Homo sapiens: one gene and its partners. The protein of the gene in region 1 interacts with the protein of each later gene in a biochemical or structural test. Each region holds a gene or a part of one and is shown in the gene's direction. Other genes may lie near its edges.

Evidence for each region.
Region 2: the proteins of ODF1 (region 1) and SPAG4 form a complex in vitro, tested with the Homo sapiens proteins (one study listed by BioGRID).
Region 3: the proteins of ODF1 (region 1) and TRIP6 form a complex in vitro, tested with the Homo sapiens proteins (one study listed by BioGRID).

The regions. Positions count from the first base shown.
Region 1 is NC_000008.11:102,547,262-102,554,591, forward strand, and holds the start of ODF1 (outer dense fiber protein 1), read left to right. Parts: upstream 1-4,327; 5' UTR 4,328-4,466; coding exon 4,467-4,786; intron 4,787-7,330.
Region 2 is NC_000020.11:35,618,768-35,621,653, forward strand, and holds the end of SPAG4 (sperm-associated antigen 4 protein), read left to right. Parts: intron 1-155; coding exon 156-231; intron 232-427; coding exon 428-543; intron 544-811; coding exon 812-979; intron 980-1,916; coding exon 1,917-2,006; intron 2,007-2,108; coding exon 2,109-2,255; 3' UTR 2,256-2,327; downstream 2,328-2,886. UniProt on the Homo sapiens protein: Involved in spermatogenesis. Required for sperm head formation but not required to establish and maintain general polarity of the sperm head. Required for anchoring and organization of the manchette.
Region 3 is NC_000007.14:100,862,536-100,870,447, forward strand, and holds the start of TRIP6 (thyroid receptor-interacting protein 6), read left to right. Parts: upstream 1-4,851; 5' UTR 4,852-4,962; coding exon 4,963-5,071; intron 5,072-5,325; coding exon 5,326-5,453; intron 5,454-5,500; exon of another isoform or gene 5,501-5,572; coding exon 5,573-5,698; intron 5,699-5,959; coding exon 5,960-6,331; intron 6,332-7,834; coding exon 7,835-7,912. Other genes in the region: SLC12A9 (solute carrier family 12 member 9), read left to right, coding at 146-292, 3,184-4,070. UniProt on the Homo sapiens protein: Relays signals from the cell surface to the nucleus to weaken adherens junction and promote actin cytoskeleton reorganization and cell invasiveness. Involved in lysophosphatidic acid-induced cell adhesion and migration.

The DNA.
Region 1 (7,330 bases):
CTAAGGTGTAGTCTCCTAGGGTGCACTGTCAGAATGAATCAGCTCCAACTGTCTTCAGGCTTTATGTCTCTCTGCTAAAGATCAAATTCCCAGAAGACAGTCAGATCAGCCAGCTTTGGTTTCATGCCTGCCCTTTGGCTAGGCAACTTACTGGCAGCACTTAATGGTGGAGGGTGGGAGTGGGGAGCGGAGAAAGTTATTTTACCAAAAGAAGATGCCATGGATGATGGACAGACCAAATTCCAGATGTCCATTCCAGGGAGACTTCCCCAATGGCCTGCTTAGGGGGATGGCAGGGGCCAAAGGTGGGCTTAGCGATTCAGTACACAGCTGATTTCTTGAGAGTACAATATCAGAAAGTGTTTCATTATAAAACTGGTGATATCCTCATAGAAGAAATTTGGAAATCACAGAAAAGTCTAGAAAAAATAATTTTAAAAGCCATCTATGATTCTACTAGCCAGAGTTAACCACAGCTAATTTTTCAGGGTGTTTCTCTCCTTTTTTTTTTTTTTTTTTTTGTGACAGGGTCTCACCCTATTGCCCAGGCTGGAGTGCAGAGGTGCAATCATAACTCAATGTAGCCTAGAGCCTCTGGGCTCAAATGATCCTCCCTCCTCATTTTCCTGAGTAGCTGGGACCATAGGCATGTGCCACCATACCTGGCTAATTTTTAAATATTTTTGTAGAAGATGGGGTCTCACTATGTTGCCCAAGCTGGTCCCAAACTCCTGGCCTCAAGTGATTCTCCCCACCTCGGTCTCCCAAAGTGCTGGAATTACAGGTGTGAGCCACCACACCTAGCCTATGGATTCTTTTTTACAGAGTTCAGGTCACACTGTGTGTATACTTTCATATTTGATGTTTAAGCACTGTGTACTGACCTAACAACTGTTAGAAAAGTGTCTTTGTAACATTGGTCTGGTGACGAGACTTGAGCTGTAGCTGTGCTACCTGCTGGAAGAGGCAGAGGGGACCTTCTTTGGCTCATGATTTCACCAACATTGGGGACCAAGCAAGTGTTGCCCAACTTGGGAAAGTGTCAAGACCTGCCTTCCATCCAGAGGAGGTTCTATCCGGACACCAGCCAAGGTGAATGAGAGATTCCATGGACATAGTCCTGCATACGGAAGGTCCTAGTTCCATATTAGAATCCATATTAAAATCCTTCTGATATGAATAGATCACATTTCCATCTCATCATTAAAGAAGACACTACCTTTATTTAGTCACTTAAAATGATAAGAATATACTTCATGATGAAGAGTAAAATCACTAGGAAGGGACAGGAGTGGTGACTCATGCCTGTAATCCCAGCACTTTGGGAGGCCAAGGTGAGCAGATGGCTTGAGCCCAGGAGTTTGAGACCAGGCTGGGCAACATGGTGAGACCCCATTTCTACAAAAAATACAAAAGTTAGGCAGGCATGGTAGTGCATGGCTATAGCCCCAGCTACTGGGGAGGCTGAGGTGGGAGGCTCACCTGAGCTCAGGAGGTCAAGGCTGCAGAGAGCACATGCCACTGTGCTCCAGCCTGGGTGACAGAGTAAGACCCTGTCTCAAAATAAAAAAAGAAAAATCACTAGGAAGGTGGGATAATGGGAGAATCCTAGTTGAAATATAGCTATACCCATCTTAATAATGTACCATGTATACACAGATGTGTGTATTTAGGCACCTGAACTTGTGTATATAATAATATTAAACTGAGAGCTTGCCTGCTTCAATCTTTGCTGACATTTGCTAAGGGATAGAATTCAAGGTGATATAAGAATTCTCTGTCACCTGGAGCTAGAGAAATCTGTACAACTCCTGCAATTAACTCTCAGGAAAGAGTAGGCCATATTTCTATTAATAGGGTCCACCCCTCAGAATCAAATCACAGTGGAATCACTTTTAAAGAGGTCAGAATTTGTCCATAGAGGAGAATCATTCAGCTTTGCTTTTTGACTCATTCCACGTGACTCAAGGGGCCAGCCTCTCATTCTAATGCCTCTAGGGACACTTGTTTGCTAAGACACATTATCTGCACAGAAAAGGGCCTCCTAAGTCAAGGCTGGGGAACATCGAGCCATTGGGAATGCCATGCTTGGTCTAGTGACTCCCAAGGGACTCCAGCTGAGGGGGCTGTCGCCCTCTGTTACTCCTTCTATGAGCCTTTCATGGACTCCTTCACTCTCCTCATTTCTACTTATTTTTCCCTGGGAGTCGGCTTCAGCTCTCTTTTTAAATTCTGAATTATCTTGCCTGTTTCCAGGGTTCCAACTACCTATGGAATTGTGGCTTCCTAATTTATATCTCTAGCCCAGGCTTTCCTCAAATTCCAGACCCTCTTATCCACAGAATACTCCAGATTTCTACCTTAAAGTTGTCACCAGCACCACCTGTTCACCAAATCCCCAAACTTACTCTTCTCCCTGTGTTATTTTTATCTCAGTGGCACCAAGAGTCTGCCAAGCTTGAAAGCTGGAAGTCACCACTGATTCCTCCCTCACTCCATCCTCACTCTGTTCACTAAATCCTGTTGAATTCACCCAGATGGTCATTCAGTGAGTACATTTCAAGCACCTGCTATGTGCCAGGCATTGTGTTAGGTATCTACTGCGAAGCAAAAATAGACAAGGTCCTTGCCCTCGTGGCTTACAGTCCAGCTGGGGAAACAATATCATGAAGGAAATGTATCCTAAGTTAAGAGAGTGTTTAGTCTGGGAGACAGAGAAGGCTTCCCCAAGAAAGGGGGAGATCTAAAGGGTGCCTTAAGAATTAAATGGATGAAAGTCATAGGTGGGGAGTTCAATTTCTAAGCAGGCAGAACGTCCTGTGTATGAGCTCTGAATGAGGTGGAAGGAATGAGGAATGTCCTTCAAGGGACTAAGGAACGGCCTCTGGAAAGTGAGTGGTCTTCCAGGAAGGCCATCGTGGCTGAGGGGTAATGAATTGCAATAATACTAGGATGGGAGAGGAGAGTGGGGAAGTGGGAGAGGCCCCATTGCTCAGCACCTGGTAAAGATTTTGGTCCTTTTTTTGAGAGGACAGAGAAGACTTTTAAGGTGAGTGGGATGATGGGTGGGGAAGGTTGAGGAATGACAGATTTCTATATGAAAGTCGCTGTGGCTACAATGTGGAAAATGGATTAGATGGGGCCTGGGCAGAGGTGGGGGAAGGCTTTCCCATTGGCTTCCTCCTTGCCATCCCCATAGCCATGATCCCCAGTCCAGATTTTTGTTGTCTCTTCTTGTCTTGCAGCAGAAAACCCCACTACTATTGTCCCTAGCAACTTACCTTCAGTGTGGCTGTCTCACTTCTGACAAAAGAAAAGAAAATCAACAATCCTTCGTTGGGCTCAAAATAAAGTTCAGAGTCCTTAGTCTGGCTACAGGTCCCTTCAAACCTGGCCCTTGTCTCCCTCACCAGTGTCACATCCAACCACTTGTCATCAATACCTGAGCTCTAGTTCATACAAGGGAGACTCGAGAGCTGGACCGCAGTTTGAGGTGAAAGGACCAGAGGAGTAGAGGCACCGAGAGCCAAATCTGAGGCCGAATCAGAGGTCTAGGATGTTAACTGAACAGAAAGTAAAGGAAACTGGCCGAAGCGGGGGTTTCAGGCAGTTGGCTTCCAGCATCTTCAGGCGGTTGGCTACAAGAACATCAAAGACCAACATTTGGGAAGCACTCAGGGACAAGACATCCGGAGGCTTGGATGCAAGACCAAAGGTGTAGTTGATGGGAGGTAGTTCCCCAGGACAGGCCCCCGAGGACTGACAGATGGGAGCTTAAGGACAGGACCCCCAACCAGTAGAGAAATGAGGTTCCCGAACAGCCATGACCACAGCTGGCGCAGAATGGGCAGGACTCAGAGACTTGTAACTCAGAAGGTCAAGGACAATGGCTGACTTGAGGATGACTTGGTAGGAGGAGAATGATGAGAACATTCTTTATATTCTACCTGTCTGGAGACAGAATGAATTCTAGAACAAAAGGAGCAAGGCCAAGCTTCCAATCAAGGCTAGAGCTAGAAGGTCATGGAGAAAGGCGTGGGCAGCTCCTGCCTTCGCCTGCACCAAGTTCAACAAACACACAGTCATAGCCATGGCTGGTCCCCAGAGCACACACAAGGCAAGGATGTTAGTGGCCAGCCCCATGCACCCCGATGAGCTATGCTCGCTTGGGAGACCCATCCTCCTTGAAGGTGAGTGAAATCTCAACACGAGTATGGTTCTGAGAGTAGCTCTGTAACTCTGAGGATGGTCTCTGGAGACCATGACTGTGTACAGTTCACATGGTAACCAGAAGACTATGACATACTTCAGAAGGTGGTGAGGTCATAGAACACAAGCTTTAAAGTAAGTGAATCATGTGTGCCTCATTTATTTTTAAAAGCAACTTCTGAGAAGGGCTTAGAACAAATTTTTTCCCGGAGTGCCATTTCCCAAAGGTACTCACAGAACAATCAGGTGTGACCATAATGGCTGCACTGAGTTGTCTCTTGGACAGTGTCAGAAGGGACATAAAGAAGGTGGACAGAGAACTAAGGCAACTGAGATGCATCGACGAATTTAGCACACGGTGCCTGTGCGACTTGTATATGCACCCCTATTGCTGCTGTGACTTGCACCCATATCCGTACTGCTTGTGCTATTCCAAGCGATCACGCTCTTGCGGCCTGTGTGATCTCTACCCATGTTGCCTGTGTGATTATAAGCTTTACTGTCTGCGACCATCTCTCAGAAGTTTGGAGAGGAAAGCCATCAGAGCCATAGAAGATGAGAAGCGAGAGCTTGCCAAGTAAAATAACTTATTTTTAAATTTTTATAGTCGGTATATTAGCCTTATAAGTTGGAATAAGGAAAAATATGTGACAATCAATAGTTGAACAAAGATTAAAAGGGTTCAGGATAATGACCCTGGTGACTTAGGAAAGATTTAAGGAAAGAAGAGTAAATGAGTCCATGATGGGAATTGTAGGGTTCTCAAAAGACAATGTAATGATGTCGATTGGCAAGGTCGTCGGTGGTTTATAGCAAGAATGCCAGTATGATAAATAATGCGGCTTTAATGAAGGGAAGAAACAGGGGGTGTCATTAAAAAGCCATTGGAAGCAGCAAACTAAACATTTTTCCTGGTTATGAGTAAAGTGATTTGAGTATATTTGGACTTACAGAAATGACTACAGGAGAAGTAATAATAATAGATCAAATCCTTAATGTGTGCCAGAGGCTTTACAAGCAGGAGAGCAAATTGAACAGTAGAGGCATTGCCTTGGTTTTGTGGGAATATCATTCTCCTATCCCCCCACTCCAGGCAAAGACTTACCTTGTATCTGGAATTAGGTCTATCATGTTGGCCTCCCCTCTAACTCTAGCAAAGGTCTTGCAAATAAACTATGGCACTGAGTTGTAGCTTTCAGGATAGACTTGAAAGGCTTTTTAATTGAATTGGGTAATTAAAAAGAGTCAGTTTTTTAAAAAAATTTTTGTTTTAGATTATATTTTCTTTTTGCCTGGAGAAAACTTTCCTTTTCTAACTTTTTACATATGCCATTTAGTCTGTTACTGTTGATGAAAAAGATGGTTGAAAGTGCTGTCCCTGGTTAAATAAATAATACATTCATGCACTGGAATAATAAGTAAATATAGAAAGGATTGATGAAGCATCTTACATATTGATGTATTAAGTCAAACAAGCAAAGTGCAGAAAAACTGATAGACAGATGACAGATAGATAGATAGATAGATAGATAGATAGATAGATAGATGATAGATAGATAGAGTCTCTTGACAACAGTGACAGTGATGTTTCTTTGGAAAAAGCAATAGGAGGCCGGGTGCATTGGCTCATGCCAGTAATCCCAGCACTTTGGGAGGCGGAGGCGGGCAGATCACCTGAGCTCAAGAGTTCGAGACCAGCCTGGCTAACATGGTGAAACCCCATCTCTACTAAATACAAAAAAAAAAAAAAAAAAAAATTAGCCAAGCGTAGTGGCACGTGCCTGTAATCCCAGCTACTCGTGAGACTGAGGCAGGAGAATCACTTGAACCCAGGAGGCAGAGGTTGCAGTGAGCCAAGATTGCACCACTACACTCCAGACCGGGTGACAAAGTGAGACTGTCTCAAAAAAAAAAAAAAAAAAAGGATAATTATTGTCTAGGTCACCAGCCACCAATGGTCAGGAATGAACCTCCCTCATAGCCTGGGAGCTTTCACCTGTAAATTCATCTATACTCTTTGAACCAATGTTTGTTTTTATTTCTTAGGGCATCAAGTCACATAAATTGCTCACACTGTGAGGCAGGGACTCTTTTTAAAATATTTGGTCCAAGTTAAGGTTTCCTTGTGAGCAGATCAGTATCCACTCTCCTCCTACTTTTGGATACTTGAATACCCTTGTCCAGGTCTTTCCAGCCTCTGTCTTCCTGGCTTCTCTCCTATCCCCAGACTCTACCAATTAAAATCCCTCTCTGTCCTGTGCTGTCTACTCTCTTGATGCCTCTTTCAGAAGCCTTGTTTCTTGGCATGCAGTAGAAACAGCTTCAAGCTTAATTCTCGGCAGTGTAGTTTAGGCAAGAGGTAATGTTTTCTCTGGTTTGTGATGCTCTTCCTGACAGCGTCTGGGTCTTTGCCTATTTTTTCTCTGCCTGCAGGCAATATGTGAAGCTGGTGATGTCTTTACATTAATTTCTGGATCTCGGAAATGATAACTCCAAGTCCATTGTAGAAATGACCTCAGGCTTGTCCGCTTTATCTCTTCCAATTCACACCACCTTGTGAAATTTCTATGCTCTATTTCTGACAACTTGACATTTCACTCTCCAGAAGGGCTTAGTGTCACTTGCAAACCTAAATATTCAATTTTCCTGAATATGGGTGAAAATGTTAAACCCTGATTCTAGCCTCAGTCCCAGAAGGCCCCCAGTGTAGTATTTTTTCTTCTAGTGCAGTGCCTTTTATTCTTATCTCTAAGCTAGCGCCTGATCCATAACTAAATAGATGCAGAAATATCATGTTGATTCAATTTTTTAAAACAATCTTTGGTGTGAAAGCTTGCCCAAGGCTTTTTGAGTTTAGAATTCATATTCACATGACCTTCCTCCCCTTTAAAGAATGCAAGGGGGTTGGTTAGTTATGACATATCCTTTCAGATGGCAGGCTGTGTTGTCCAGAAGGTTCTTTGCCCAATATGAAGTAAAGACTCTATAGTCTATAGTTGCCTTGGCCCCCTTGAAACTGTTTTTCTGTGTCACAGTCAATCTGCTGTGTCTCTGGGTCCTCCTTTAATAACTGGTAAAAAGCCTCAACCAACAATTTCTTAATTGATCCCACAGGTTTCTT
Region 2 (2,886 bases), on another chromosome or scaffold:
GGGTCCTGAGACTTAAGCTCCGCCCAGAGCCCTGCGGGATTTCTCCCGGTGCCCACGAAGTCCATCCCAAAGCAACCAGCTCCCAGAGGTCCCGTCCACCTGTAAAAGCAGCCCGCAAGCCTCGCCCCTCCAGGCCTCGCCCTCCCTCCTTGCAGAGAGTGGCCAAGCTCGTGTTCCAGAGGCTGAATGAGGATTTTGTGCGGAAGCCCGACTATGCTTTGAGCTCTGTGGGTAAGACCCGGAGACACTGGAAGACAGAGACGCAGACAGGAAAGAGGCCAAGACACTGACACAGACAGACCCATGCACCTGACCGGCCGAAGACAGAGCCTCGGACAGCCCCCACCCGCCCCCAGCCCCCGCGCCCCCGCGCCCCGACTCCCGGCAAGGCCTGGGAGCCTCTGAGGGTTACTTCTCACTGTTCCAGGAGCCTCCATCGACCTGCAGAAGACATCCCACGATTACGCAGACAGGAACACTGCCTACTTCTGGAATCGCTTCAGCTTCTGGAACTACGCACGGCCGCCCACGGTTATCCTGGAGGTGAGTCTGGAAACATCCCGGGATGGGACCCCGGGCGGGACGCTGGGAAAAGCACCAAAACCCCGCCCTACAGGCGGAGCTTGGCTGAGCCGAGGGCGTGGAGGATGGCGTTTAACTCAAGGAGAGACCTGGCATTGCTGGGGACTGGGGCGGGCTGGAGGTGGAGCTCTGGGCGGGTCGATGGATGGGGTCGAGCTGAGGCCCGGGCTGGGGAGCGGCAGCAGTCGCTCTGTCCGACGGTTCCGATGGTCCCTCCGCCCGCCTGCAGCCCCACGTGTTCCCTGGGAATTGCTGGGCTTTTGAAGGCGACCAAGGCCAGGTGGTGATCCAACTGCCGGGCCGAGTGCAGCTGAGCGACATCACTCTGCAGCATCCACCGCCCAGCGTGGAGCACACCGGAGGAGCCAACAGCGCCCCCCGCGATTTCGCGGTCTTTGTGAGTGCGGACGAGGTCAGGAGGTGGGGGATTTTGCCTAGAGAGCCCAAGCAGTCTTGAGAACTGGTGCCGTTATCTGAGTCTTCGCTTGCTCATCTATAAAATGAAGATACTACTATTTGCCTCTCAGAGCTGCTGTAGGTTATAGTCATAACCATATCCAGATATTAGTTATTGCTTGCAAAGCACTTACTCCGTGCCAAGCAGTTTACAGGCATTCTTATTTTGCTGTTGTTTTTGAGACAGTCTCGCTCTTGTCACCCAGGCTGCTGGAGTGCAGTGGTGCCATCTCAGCTCACCTGCAACCTCAGCCTCTAGGATTCAAGCGATTCTTGTGCCTCATCCTCCCGAGTAGCTGGAATTACAGGCGTGCGCCACCATGCTCGGCTAATTTTTGTATTTTTAGTAGAGATGGGGTTTCACCATGTTGGCCAGGATGGTCTCAAACTCCTGACCTCAAGTGATCCGCCTTCCTCGGCCTTCTGAAATGCTAGGATTACAGGCATGAGCCACCGTGCCTGCTTTGCACCCACATAACAACCTATGATGTACTGTTATCTCCCCCTTTAAAGATGAAGAAAGTAATGCTCAGAGAGGGGAAGTTATTTTTCCAAGGTAATACAACTAACAGTTGGCAGGATTAAATTTAAAACCTGGTTTCTTCCCGGGAGGTGGAGCTTGCAGTGAGCCAAGATCTCACCACTGCACTCCAGCCTGGGTGACAGAGCAACACTCCGTCTCAAAATAAATAAATAAATAAAACCTGGTTTCTTAGAGCCCACATTCTGAATTACAGTGTACGACCATCAAAAAATACATGAGAACATGCATATAGCTATTGAATACACAGAAGATCCTCAGCAAAGTTTTCTTCTCCCCGCCCCCCCCGCCCCACCTGTCCCCCTCATAGTTCCTCCTTTCATTCTTCACCCACCAGGGCCTCCAGGTTTATGATGAAACTGAAGTTTCCTTGGGGAAATTCACCTTCGATGTTGAGAAATCGGAGATTCAGACTTTCCACCTGCAGGTGTGTTTGTCTCTAGGGTGAAGGTGCCAAGGGAGTGGGGCAGTGAGGGATGAATGATCCAGGAGGAGGGCAGCCCTTGGCATGATCCATTTGTCTCCCCAGAATGACCCCCCAGCTGCCTTTCCCAAGGTGAAGATCCAGATTCTAAGCAACTGGGGCCACCCCCGTTTCACGTGCTTGTATCGAGTCCGTGCCCACGGTGTGCGAACCTCAGAGGGGGCAGAGGGCAGTGCACAGGGGCCCCATTAAACATGCTGATTTTTGGAGTAGAATTGAGTTCTGCTGAAGGATACTGGATCAGTGCTTTCGGGGGCTCTGTTGGGAGAGCTCTGGCTGCCGTTGCATCTAAGTATGGAGGGGCTGACTTCCCAATGCACCCTCTTTTCTTGGAGAAGTCTTGATCAAGATCGTAATAGCAGCTCCTGTTTATGGAGTGCCTACCACGTACAAGAAACAGTGCTGTGGACATTACACACATTACCTAACTTCATTCTCACAACCAGAAAGGGAAGCTGCTCAGGTCAGGAAACTTGTTCAATGTCACACAGCTAGTGAAAGGCAGTGACAGAGCAGTACCCAGGCCCACCTTCCTCCAGAGCCAGTCCTCTAACTGCAGAGCTGCAGGCAGCCTGAACCCACCTTTGTGCTCAATTCCCAGCCCCAGTGGGAAAGTCCCCAACTCCTGCTAGGTACCGGTGGAGGGGTAGCTACCCACCTTCTGCAGGCACACACTCAAAAGCTAAGGAGACTTGATAACCTCTAGGAAGCTTCTGAGTCACAGAGCTGATGCAGGCCTGGTAGCCCCTACATAGGTTGTCTTACTGAGACCTGAGTTCCCAACTCTGTGTGAGGCACAGCATAGATGATTTAGTGTTCACCA
Region 3 (7,912 bases), on another chromosome or scaffold:
ACACCAGCCCCTCTGCCCCTTTTATCCTTTCCCATGACCCCTCCAAGTAGCCATAGCCCTGCCCAGGCCCGTCTGTGATTTGGACTCTAGGAGACATTGAGTTTGGACAACACTGGCTACCTTCCTTTCCTTATCTTCTCTGTAGACTCCCTGCCCTCGGACCCTGTACAGCCGCAGTATGGGGCATGGCTCAGCCTGGTGGACCGTGCCCAGGTGAAGGCTTTTGTGGATCTAACCCTCTCACCCTCCGTGCGCCAGGGGGCTCAGCATCTGCTGCGAATCTCCGGCCTCGGTGAGCTGCTTCTCCCTGGATGCCCTCGGCCTTCCTCTGTGGCCACTTCAAATCTCCGCTCCCCTCCCCTAGAGAGTCAGCCACAGATTGCAAACTGCAAAAGGACCTTATAGTCGAGAGGAGATAAGACAGTGCTCAAAGATAATAGCCTCAGACAGTGTGTGATAAGGTCTAATAGGAGATGCTAGGGACTAGTGATGGGGTGGGCGATGTTGTGGGTTTTTTTTCCTTCTTCTTTTTTTTTTTTTTTTTTGAGACGGAGTCTCACTCTGTCTTGCCCAGGCTGGAGTACAGTGGCACGATCTTGGCTCACTGCCTCCTCCACCTCCCAGGTTCAAGTGATTCTCCTGTCTTAGCCTCCCAAATATCTGGGACTATAGGCATGTGCTACCATACCTGGCTAATTTTTGTATTTTTAGTAGAGATGGGGGTTTCACCATGTTGCCCAGGCCAGTGTCGAGCTCCTGACCTCAGGTGATCTACCCGCCTCGGCCTCCCAAAGTGCTGGGATTACAGGCATGTACCACTGTGCCCAGCCTTTCCTTCTTTTTTTTTCTGATCCAAAAATTGGGGCATAGGCACTGAAGAGTGTATTTTTGGAGACAATGGAGCATTATTTGAATCTCCAGCTGCCTCATCAAATCAGATGGTTTTTAACCACCAGTGTTCAGAGGAAGGCAGGCCAGCCACTATACACTGATGTGGCCAGCAAAGGTTTTGCGGAGAGATGGTAATTCATCCAGACTTTGAAAGAGGTTGGGATGTAGGAGATGTAACATGTCTCCCCTGCCCCCGCCACCCAAAGCCACAAAGGATGCCGGAGGCTGTGTGGGGCGGACGTCTGTGGATGGAGCGGTAAATTCTCAGCTTTTAGCGCTGAGGCCACCAGGGTTATCTATGCTCAGTCACTGCCTTTTCCCTTAATCCTGGACCAGTGCCCGTCACCAAAGTGCATGCTTCCTTCTCTATTCAGAGTCTGGCTAAAGTTCAACAGTGTTGGACATTGCCCAGTTCAGTGTAAATCAGAACCCTGGGAAATACTGAGGAGGGGGCATGACTAGTTTATTTTGCAAGATCAGCTGGAATTCACACCTGCGGAGATGTTTTGGGGTGTCGTCAAGCATCATTGACCCACAGAACATCTGAGAGCCTGGTCTTCACTTTTTGTGCAGAGACCACAATGCTTATGAAATACGAAATTTTTCCTGTGGAAGATATCAGGTCGGTGCAAAAGCAATTGCGGTTTTTGCCTTTTTTTTTTTTTTTTTTTGGACAGGGTCTCACTCTGTTGCCCAGGCTGGAGTGCAGTGGCACAATGTCAGCTCACTGCAACCTCTGCCTCCCGGGTTCAAGTATTCTCCCATCTCAGCCTCCCAAGTAGCTGGGACTACAGATATACGCCAGCATTGTCCGGCTAATTTTTGTATATTTTTGGTAGAGACGGGGTTTCACCATATTGCCCAGGCTGATCTCGAACTTCCAACCTCAGGTGATCCGCCTGCCTCAGCCTCCCAAAGTGCTGGGATGCCATTTTAATGGGGGAAAAAAAGAACCACAATTACTTTTGCACCAACCTATTCCAATAAAAGGAAAAGTAGTTCCTTTAAATGGTGGATTCTCCTGTCATAGAAAATTTGATTTATGGCTTGAGCAGTGTTTGTTTCATGAGAAGGGGTCTTGGAAGAGGTCTCTGCGTCTCCCTGTAAACTCAGCAATTATCCGATTCCACAAGGGTTGTTCAAAAATTAAGAACGAAGAGCTTGTCAGCAGGGACTTGGAGCATTGTGGTTGCCACGTGCCCAGCTCGGTGGCTCAGAGTGTGGCCTCTCACGCTGGATGGAGGCGGATTGCGTTGACCTACCTGCCCCAGTACCTACCAGATATGAGCCTATGGGCAAGTGACTTCATCCCTTGGTGCTTTGGGCTCCTTATCAGTAAAAAGAGGAGACTAAATATTACCTACCTCATAGCATTACTTCGAGTTTCAAATAAGTTAAAATATAAAGTGCTTTCTACAGGACATAGCCCCTGGTAAGCGGATACCATGCAATGAACCACCATGATTAGGGTTTTGGTAAAACCTACTAGGGTTAGGGTTTACTGCAGTAAACATACGGGGTAGCCCTGTTTCTTTTTTTCTTTTTTTTTGAGATGGAGTCTCGCTCTGTTGCCCAGGCTGGAGTGCAGTGGCGTGATCTCGGCTTACTACAACCACCACCTTCCGGGTTCAGGCAATTCTCATGTCTCAGCCTCCTGAGTAGCTGGGATTATAGATGCCCACCACAATGCCCGGCTAATTTTTGTATTTTTAGTAGAGATAGCATTTCACCGTATTGGCCAGGCTGGTCTCAAACTCCTGATCTCAGGTGATCAACGTGCCTCAGCTTCCCAAGATGCTGCGATTACAGGTGTGAGCCACGGTGCCCTGCCTGGTCCATTTTTTCATCTTCCCATTGCAGAGTCTGGGACGCTATTACCCTGGGGATTCAGGTCATGAGCTTGGCTGATCAGGGTGTCTGGTTTGCACAACAGAGTCAAACTCGCATCCCCTGCCGTGAAACAGATGCCCCGCTAGAAGCCGGGAGTGGACAGCATCCTCCTCTCCATAGAATTGGAGTGCTCATTAGTGGCAAGAATCCTAAGGCGAACTTTGCCTGTTTAAGTGGAGGAGATTAGTCACTGAGATAATAAAATAAATGCATGTGAAAGTGTTTAGGAAAAATGAAAAGTCTTTATGCAAATATGCAGAATGTTGCCGTAAGAGCCCGTACACAGTGGGAATGTCATACCTATGGCTGACGCACCTTGCTGTCAGTGTGTGGGAGCGTGGTGTAAACTTAGCCTGTGAGCCTGACTCCTGTCTGTTCCTGCCTTCCCCGCTCTGCCCCCAGGTGGCATGAAGCCCAACACGTTGGTCCTAGGTTTCTACGATGACGCTCCACCGCAGGACCATTTCCTGACGGACCCGGCTTTCTCTGAGCCTGCAGACAGCACCAGGGAGGGCAGTTCCCCAGCTCTGAGCACCCTGTTCCCTCCTCCCCGGGCTCCTGGGAGCCCCCGGGCCCTCAATCCCCAGGACTATGTGGCCACGGTGGCCGACGCCCTCAAGATGAACAAGAATGTGGTGCTGGCCCGGGCCAGCGGGGCCTTGCCCCCTGAGCGGCTGAGCCGGGGGTCTGGGGGCACCTCTCAGCTGCACCATGTGGACGTGTGGCCCCTCAACCTGCTGCGGCCCCGGGGTGGGCCCGGCTATGTGGATGTCTGCGGCCTCTTCCTGCTGCAGATGGCAACCATCTTGGGCATGGTGCCCGCTTGGCATAGCGCCCGGCTCCGGATCTTCCTGTGCCTGGGGCCTCGGGAGGCGCCTGGGGCGGCCGAGGGGCGGCTGCGGGCACTGCTGAGCCAACTGAGGATCCGGGCTGAGGTGCAGGAGGTGGTGTGGGGCGAGGGGGCCGGGGCTGGGGAACCCGAGGCGGAGGAGGAAGGGGACTTTGTGAACAGTGGGCGGGGAGACGCAGAGGCAGAGGCCCTGGCACGCAGCGCCAACGCCCTGGTTCGGGCCCAGCAGGGGCGCGGCACAGGAGGAGGGCCGGGTGGGCCGGAGGGTGGGGATGCTGAGGGCCCCATCACAGCCCTCACCTTCCTGTACTTGCCTCGGCCGCCAGCCGATCCCGCCCGATACCCCCGCTACCTGGCGCTACTGGAGACTCTAACCCGAGACCTGGGCCCCACGCTGCTGGTTCATGGGGTCACTCCAGTCACCTGCACTGATCTGTGATGCCCCTGCCTCCAGGGCTAGGTAGAGAGGGCCCAGGCAGGCGGCCTATCCTGATCCTTGGAGGAGGAGGAAGAGGAGGCCACTGTGGCCCGTGGCCCTGCCCTTGGGACGTGGAGCCCAGGGGAGGTTTGAAGGGGATCCTGGGCTTGGGCATCACGCCCACCTCCTTTGGCAGAGGGACCCCAGCACACTAACTCTGGGTGGCTGTCCCCACCGTGCAGGGGAGGGAGTCCGCAGCCTCCCTTCACTGGTGCCTTGATGCTAGGGGCCAGGCCTCCTCTGTGACTCTGGGCTACCTCAGTTTCCCCATTTTGGCCAGACTCACCGGCCCACTGGGGTGGTGATGTTTTCGTTCTGTTTTATTTTTCTAACTCTGCTGACCATGAATAAAAGACCAAAACACTACAGGCTGGCTGAGCAGTGCTGGTGGGTAGCTGAGAGGGAGGGGGTGGGAATGGAGAGCTCTGCAGAGGGGTGGAGATCGGAGCCTTCAGCCTCCCGCCGCGAGGCTGCCACGTGCAGGGCTGGGGTGCGGGGCCCGGACGCATCCGTGGACTTGGAGGCTGGCTCGGGCCCGCACCTCCCATCCCCAGCTGCCCGCAACCCCCAGTGACTCGGGATCCCCCGGAGAGCCCTCCCCTCTCGGCAGGAGGGGGCTGACTCAGGGAGAAATGGCAGTTTAGGGCCTAGGGGGCCACGTGACCCTCCCCCAGGAATGTGGTGACGTCATCGGAGGCGTGGTCGTCCCCAAAATTAGGGAGGAAGAGGAAAAAAAAAAGCCAGAAAAAGTTTTCTTTTCTGGAGTCCCAAACGAGGTGCGGGACGGAAGAGGGGGTGAAGGCCAGAGGCTCGGGGCTTCAAGACCGCTGTCTGGAGTCCCCCTTTCCAGGCCATGTCGGGGCCCACCTGGCTGCCCCCGAAGCAGCCGGAGCCCGCCAGAGCCCCTCAGGGGAGGGCGATCCCCCGCGGCACCCCGGGGCCACCACCGGCCCACGGAGCAGGTAAGGCAGCCCTTGTGAGACAGAAGAGCCACCCAGCTGTGGCGCTCACCTCTGTCCTACCGCTCCAGCCTCCCGCCCTGGCTGCTTCCTCCTGCCCCTTCCCCAAGCCGAGGCGGGGGGAACAGCCGCCTGCGCTCTCTTGGGACCCTAGATTTGGGGGAGGAGGTAACGAGAGGCGGAGAGGGTGGCTCCTCAAATATACACCCCTCCTGTCCTCCGCCACCCCACCTTTGATTTCTCTTCCCTCAACCCAGCACTCCAGCCCCACCCCAGGGTCAATTTTTGCCCCCTTCCATCTGAGCAGTGTTACCAGGCCCCAGGGGGACCGGAGGATCGGGGGCCGGCGTGGGTGGGGTCCCATGGAGTACTCCAGCACACGCAGGTGAGACCCGGGATCGTGGGGTGGGACATGTGGGATCCCCCAGAACCGAGTCTGAGGGACCCAGGACAGGAGAAGGCCTATGGTGATTTGCATTCTTCCTGCCCTGGCTCCATCCTCAGGGGCTCCCTGCAGACAGGGGGGGCCTTCGCCCTGGAAGCCTGGACGCCGAGATAGACTTGCTGAGCAGCACGCTGGCCGAGCTGAATGGGGGTCGGGGTCATGCGTCACGGCGACCAGACCGACAGGTGACTCTGCCCCTCCTCCCCGTCAGCACCCTGCCCCCTTCTCTGGACTCTCAGACCCAGCCTGATCGATCCCCCATGTGTGTAATGTGCACCCCAGCATGGAGGAAGCGTGGCTGCAAGTACCAACATGTCAGCCACTTGAGGACGGGACCTTGTCAAATGCAAAAAGCCTGTGCTTCCCCACAGCCAGGGTCATTTCCACAAATGTGGGTCTTGGAGTGGGGTCCTTGCTTACGACTTCTGGCCTGCGTTTCTCCTCAGGCATATGAGCCCCCGCCACCTCCTGCCTACCGCACGGGCTCCCTGAAGCCAAATCCAGCCTCGCCGCTCCCAGCGTCTCCCTATGGGGGCCCCACTCCAGCCTCTTACACTACCGCCAGCACCCCGGCTGGCCCAGCCTTCCCCGTGCAAGTGAAGGTGGCACAGCCAGTGAGGGGCTGCGGCCCACCCAGGCGGGGAGCCTCTCAGGCCTCTGGGCCCCTCCCGGGCCCCCACTTTCCTCTCCCAGGCCGAGGTGAAGTCTGGGGGCCTGGCTATAGGAGCCAGAGAGAGCCAGGGCCAGGGGCCAAAGAGGAAGCTGCTGGGGTCTCTGGCCCTGCAGGAAGAGGAAGAGGAGGCGAGCACGGGCCCCAGGTGAGCCCTGGGGAACTGGGATTTCAGGCCCTACAGACAATGGGACACCGACTGGGTGGGGTGGCTGGTGGTGTTTTAGGGGGCTTTTTTGTTTTTTGAGACAGAGTTTTGCTCTTGTTTGCCCAGGCTGGGGTGCAGTGGTGCCATCTTGGCTCACTGCAACCTCTGCCTCCCGGGTTCAAGTGATTCTCCTGCCTCAGCCTCCTGAATAACTGGATTACAGGCACACGCTGCCACGCTTGGTTAATTTTTGTATTTTTAGTACAGACGGGGTTTCACTAAAACCCCAGTTTGTTGGCCAGGCTGGTCTCGAACTCCCGACCTCAGGTGATCCGCCTGCCTCAGCCTCCCAAAGTGCTGGGATTGCAGGCCTGAGCCACCGCGCCTGGCCAAGGGGCTGGTTTTGGAGCAGAGTCAGAGGTCTGGGACGTGGAATAGGTAAGGGCAGGGCAGTGCGGGGGAGCAGGATAGAACTGCCCATTGGGGCTGAGCGCGGTGGCTCATGCCTGTAATCCCAGCACTTTGGGAGGCTGAGGTGGGTGGATCACCTGAGGTCACGAGTTCGAGACCACACTGACCAACATGGAGAAACCTCGTCTCTACTAAAAATACAAAATTAGCCAGGCATGGTGGCACATGCCTGTAATCCCAGCTACTCGGGAGGTTGAGGCAGGAGAATCACTTGAACCTGGGAGGTGGAGGTTGCGGTGAGCCGAGATCGCACCACTGCTCTCCAACCTGGGCAACAAGAGCAAAACTCTGTCTCAAAAAAAAAAAAAAAAAAAAAAAAGAACTGCCTACGGGCCCCTGGGCTGAGATGTTCTCAGATGAGCTTTCTAGCTGGAACTGCCTGGCCACCTTCAGAGACATTATAGCAGTCCCCAATCTTTTTGGCACCAGGGACCAGTTTTGGGGAAAACAATTTTTCCATGGACTGGGGAGGGGGATGGGAGGGGGTGGGAGGGGGATGGTTTCAGGATGATTCAAGCACATTACATTCATTGTGCACTTTATTTCTGTTATAATAATAATAGAATATATAGTATATATAATTGTTTCGGTATATATTACAATGTATATTACAATGTAATATATACCGAAACAATTATACAATTCACCATCATGTAGGATCAGTGGGAGCCCTGAGCTTGTTTTCCTGCAACTGGACAGTCCCATCTGGGGGTGATGGGAGACAGTGACAGATCATCAGGCATTAGATTCTCATAAGGAGCTTGCAACCTACATCCTTCGAACACACAGTTCACAATAGGGTTCATGCTCCTATGAGAATCTAACGCCGCTGCTGATCTGACAGGAGGTGGAGCTCAGGCGGTAATGCAAGTGATGGGGAGCAGCTGTAAATACAGATGAAGCTTTGCTTGCCCATTGCTCAGCTCCTGCTGTGTGGCCCAGTTCCTAACAGGCCATGGCCTGGCGGCTGAGGGCCCTGGTATTACAGCATCAGGAGCTAGAGTAGGACCGAGCCCGATTCCCACCTTCCAGGTGCCCCTGAGCCAGCCTCCAGAGGATGAGCTGGATAGGCTGACGAAGAAGCTGGTTCACGACATGAACCACCCGCCC